Linked DNA regions of Homo sapiens: region 2 is linked to region 1. A link means that fine-mapping ties the variant in region 1 to the expression of a gene that starts in the linked region. Tissue or cell type: tibial nerve. Region 1 holds a variant in brackets; the other region holds the start of a gene. All regions are shown on one strand. Distances are from middle to middle.

Region 1 (2,678 bases):
AGTCTTTGCCCATGCCTATGTCCTGAATGGTATTGCCTAGGTTTTCTTTTAGGGTTTTTATTGTTTTAGGTCTTACATTTAAGTCTTTAATCCATCTTGAGTTAATTTTTGTATACAGTGTATGGAAGGGATCCAGTTTCAGCTTTCTACATACGACTAGCCAGTTTTCCCAACACCATTTATTAAATAGGGAATCCTTTCCCCATTGCTTGTTTTTCTCAGATTTGTCAAAGATCAGATGGTTGTAGATGTGTGGTATTATTTCTGAGGCCTCTGTTCTGTTCCATTGGTCTATATCTCTGTTTTGGTACCAGTGCAATGCTGTTTTGGTACCAGTGCAATGCTATTTTGATTACTGTAGCCTTGTAGCATAGTTTGAAGTCAGGTAGCATGATGCCTCCAGCTTTGTTCTTTTTGCTTAGGATTGTCTTGGCTATACGGACTCTTTTGGTTCCATATGAACTTTAAAGTAGTTTTTTCCAATTTGGTGAAGAAAGTCATTTGTAGCTTGATGGGGATAGTATTTAATCTATAAATTACCTCGGGGAGTATGGCCATTTTCATGATATTGATTCTTCCTATCCATGAGCATGGAATGTTCTTCCATTTGTTTGTGTCTTCTTTTATTTTGCTGAGCAGTGTTTTGTAGTTCTCCTTGAAGAGGTCCTTCACATCCCTTGTAAGTTGGATTCCTAGCTATTTTATTCTCTTTGTAGTAATTGTGAATTGGAGTTCACTCATGATTTGGCTCTCTGTTTGCCTATTATTGGTGTATAGGAATGCTTGTGATTTTTGCACATTGATTTTGTATCCTGAGACTTTGCTGAAGTTGCTTATCAGCTTACGGAGATTTTGGGCTGAGCTGATGGGGTTTTCTAAATTTACAATCATGTCATCTGCAAACAGAGACAATTTGAGTTCCTCATTTCGTAATTGAATACCCTTTATTTCTTTCTCTTGCCTGATTGCCCTAGCCGGAACTTCCAACACTATGTTGAACAGGAGTGGTGAAAGAGGGCATCCTTGTCTTGTGCCGGTTTTCAAAGGGAATGCTTCCAGTTTTTGCCCATTCAGTATGATATTGGCTGTGGGTTTGTCATAATAGCTCGTATTATTTTGAGATATGTTCAATCAATACCTAGTTTATTGAGAGTTTTTAGCATGTTTTTAGTTTTTAGCATGAAGGGCTGTTGAATTTTGTCGAAGGCCTTTTCTGCATCTATTGAGATAATCATGTGGTTTTTGTCGTTGGTTCTGTTTATGTGATGGATTATGTTTATTGATTTGTGTATGTTGAACCAGTCGTGTGTCCCAGGGATGAAGCTGACTTGATTGTGGTGGATAAGCTTTTTGATGTGCTGCTGGATCTGGTTGCCAGTATTTTATTGTCAGACTCATATTCTTAAAGCAGCCTTTTCAGACTGCCCTCCCTCCCCACTTGTAGAAGTAATCTGGCCACTCATTGTTTTTCACCTTCCTCGTATTTCTGATTTCATGGAACTTCTAAGAAACATCATTTTAATTTGTCCTCTTCCTCACTCCCCCCACCCCACCCCACTCCAGCACTCTATCTCCCTTACCCCAACACTTGCCAGGGTGGAACAATAGGGTCCTTTGATATTTGGGCATTTTTAGAGCCAAGTC[A/C]TTCAGGAAGGGAACAGTGCCTTCTCTTTTTCCAAAGCAAAAGTGCTTTCTCTTTTCTAAAGCAGGGAGAACCCCTTCATTGATAGGATTGTTGATCCATAGAAGTATAAATGCTGGTGTAAACATTTCTGGCATTTGTATTTAAAAGAGTTCCTTAAGAGTGGGGCCCATATTGACTTAAAAAATATTGAGGAGAACGTCTAATAGTGGCCATCACCAACTTGATTTATTAGTAACCTTTATGAACAAATATCCATTTGAGGAAGGCTGCCCCGGCTGGTAGCCTGAAAAAGCCTGCTTTTCTCCTTGACTTGGGATTTCCTCATCTGGTTATTGTCCTTCCCTTTACCACAGGAGTTCACTAGTCCTCAAATTTAGCTGTAAAAGCTGGAATGACCACAAGCTTGGTTCTAGGCTCTTGATTCTCTTCTATTTGGATTCTCTCCTTCTGTAATCATATGTAGTTTAGTTGCGTTCTATTGCTTAATCTCAATATGCTGATGACTCCCATATGTGTACCTTTAGTCTGATATCTTTCCTGAGCTCCATACTCATATATGCAGCTTGCTACCTATCTCTTTACATATAAATATTATGTATCAATATTACATATAAATATATGCAGATTATATATGCATGTATACATGTATGTATATATGTACACATACATATGCACATGCACATATATACAATGTATATACACACATTATATATTTTATGTGTATACTTATATATAATGTGTATATATGTTATATACTATATGTTATATAATATCATAGACCCTATTGGTCTGTTCCTTGAGATGGATACATTCACGGATAGGTCATCTGACTTCCTACTCTCTGTTAGTCCCTCCCCATGTCACTTGAGTGCACACACCATGAGTGTAGCCCGTTTTTGTTTTCTTTATATCACTCTTCTCTCTCCAAGCCTCTCTTGATAATTTGCTGTCTGTCTATCGCTTGTCCCTTACATCTTCCTGCAGGGGACACGAAAGCAGTGGTGGCTTGTTTGCCTAATTCAGCCCTCTGCAG
Region 2 (2,678 bases), 130 kb after region 1:
AGAAGAATTACTGTAGCTCAGAAGTATGAGTAGTCTGGTCTACAGGACAGCAAAAACATATCTGATGGCTTCTACAGACTAAAGTTCCAAGCCACTAGGTATATCCACTCACACAGCCTTCTCTCCTGTGCGTTTGTATGGCCGCTTCTCAGGAATGCTGGTGAGAAGCCCATGATATAACCAATATGAAAATGTTCCACCACTGTAGTATTCTAGATATTTGAAAAGACAATGGATGAGAATGAAAATGATGCATATACAATAATATTAATGTTAAAAGTAAACAATACTACAGGTGGTGATAAGGGCTATTAAAATATAAAAGAGTTCAATAGGAAGAGAAATGAATGGATGTTTGCCTTTTCAAAGAGGGTGGGTTTGTAAATGCCAGGAAATCCAGTTTCCTTTAGGGATTATTCACGGGCCTCACCATCTTCTCTTCTCAAGGCATTTAAATAACAGGATCCACTTTAATAAAAAATGTCAAACTCCTCCCGCCTTCACTAGCAGCCAGAAAAGCACGCGTATGGTCCATACTATACAATTTAGCCACGAATGACACCTGCTTTGCTTTGTTTTCTATTGTGTTAGGCGTCAGCCTCGTGTGCTCAGATAGATCTTAAGCTCCTTGAAGGCAAGAAAGAACCCGGTCCCAGACTGCGTCCGACACACAGAATGCTCGTAGGAAGCACAGGCTGATTTATGGAAAATACAGCAAGGGTCTTCAATTTCGAACTACAGCTCCGCCTTGGAGATGCTTTCCGCAGCCCGCGGGCCGCCCACGGGGGGCACTGTCTAGCTCCCCTCGCCCCTCAGCCGCTCTCCGTCGGTGCTGTTCCCCGCTGCGGCCGGGAGGAGGCGCCACGGACTCGGGCTAAGCTTCTTCCCCCTTCCGTCCCCCTTCCATCCACCTTACCACCCCACTTCCCCAGCACATGACGTGGGAAGCTGCCTCCGCCAGAGTCTTAGCAAGAGGAGTGAGGGGGTGCAGGGGCTTGGGGGTGGGGTGGGGTGGGGGGTGTGGAGAAAGAGGACACGCGCGCTCACACCCGCCCCTGGGAGCAGAAGCAGTATCTTCCCCAGCTTCGTGGGTTTCTCCTCCCCCCGGAGTCAGGGTGTGCGAGGTAGGGGGTGTGTGTGTGTCTGTGTGTGTGTGCGCGGCACGTTTTTGAGTGTGAGACCCAAATCCAGACCAGGCAACCTGCGTTCCCCGCGCCTCCCCCCGTCCCCGGTGATTAATACCCATTTTTCTGACGCTCCCCTCCTCCCCTCCTGCTCTCCCTCTCCGGCTGCCGCGCGGTTGACTTGCACAGCCTGCCCCCGCCCGCTTCCCTTCCCCCGGCTCCGATCCTCACCAACTGGAATCTGGGCTCCTGCCTCTCCACCCCCCACCTCTTTTTGAGAAAGGAAGGTTCCCCCCACCCCCTTTCAAAAACCACTTCCTCCGGCTTCTTCACCTCTAGGAAATCTCGGGGCTTCGCTCTATCGAGAGTGCTCGTCAAGGGTGATTCTTGATCACCACCATCCAGTAGTGCTGGCGTCCGAATGCATATCCTTTTGCCTTGCAAAGAAGAGTCATGAACTTCAAAACCCCCGAGACGGATCATTAATCCTGCTTTGCAGGAAAGGAAAACCCTCCATTCCCAGCCACCGGCCACCCCTCTCCGCAGACTGCAACCGCGGAGGCGCTCGGAGCCGGTACGTAAAGATGGGCTTTGGAGTCTCTCCTTTGAATGTAGGGGTTTGGGGGTGTCAGGCAGATAAAGGGTCGAAGCCGTGAAATCGTGAACGAATCTGGCATGAGGTAAAGCTCTGAAATCCAGCAGAACCCGGCACTTGCTAATTTGGACGTGGCTTTTTTAAAGGTTTTTTTTTTTTGTGGGGGAGGGGGTGCTGTGACTGGGTAGGGCTGTCTCTGGTCTTTTGGGGGGTTTCATCCCTTCACCTAGCAGAGGGGCAGGGCAGCGGCGCCCCGGGCCGGACCCACGCGCCGAGCCCATCCGTCCAATCGACACGTTGCAGGTGAAGCCCCGTGCGCTGCACCTCAGCGCGGCGGCAGCGTGAGTGTGCGCGGGGGTGAGTGTGCGCGGGGGTGAGTGTGAGTGCGCGCGGGGCGCGTGCGCGTCGGGGGCGTGTGTGCGCGCGTCAGTGTGCCCCTTCCAAGAAATGCCCAGTGTGCACCCCGTGCACAATCAGAACCCATTCAGCACAAGCCCGGGGTGGGAGGCGGCGCTGCTGCTGGAGGCGATGGGGAGAGCGAGCGAGACAAGTCAGCAGCAATGCAGATGGGGCTGGGGGCCGCACTCGCTGGCGAGTTAAGTGGGAATTGTGTTTCTGCGTGTGTGTGAGTGTGTGTTGCTGTATGGTGCCGCTTCTCCCCCCCTTCCTCCTTCCTTCCCACTTCCCTCCTTCGCTCGCTCCCTCCCTCTCTCCTCTTCCATTCAGGTTGGCTTTCCCACCTCTCATCCGTGCCTGTCCCAGGAATGGTATAGCCAGACCTTTTCTGAATTATTTATAGACCGGTACCAGCTGTTTTCAATTCCTCTCGTGTGCACTCTGTGGGAAATGCGGGGTTTCCTCCCCCCTTTCCTTAAAACGAATTGATATCTTTTTCGGAATGCATTTTTCTCACCCTCCGGGGGACACGCGAATCAAGCCCTGACCGCCTCTTTTTCCCC

Evidence for each region. PIP is the estimated chance that this variant, and not a neighbour inherited with it, causes the effect.
Region 2: it holds the start of GRIN2B, and the variant in region 1 is fine-mapped to the expression of GRIN2B in tibial nerve (GTEx, PIP above 0.99).

The regions. Positions count from the first base shown.
Region 1 is chr12:14,112,177-14,114,854 of GRCh38, reverse strand. No RefSeq gene overlaps it. Among named protein-coding and RNA genes, the nearest start is that of GRIN2B, 130 kb to the right of the region's middle. The variant A/C (reference allele first, on the strand shown) is at 1,645.
Region 2 is chr12:13,980,362-13,983,039 of GRCh38, reverse strand. GRIN2B (glutamate ionotropic receptor NMDA type subunit 2B) reads left to right here and starts at 1,438. Exons shown (of 14, transcript NM_000834.5): 1 at 1,438-1,698.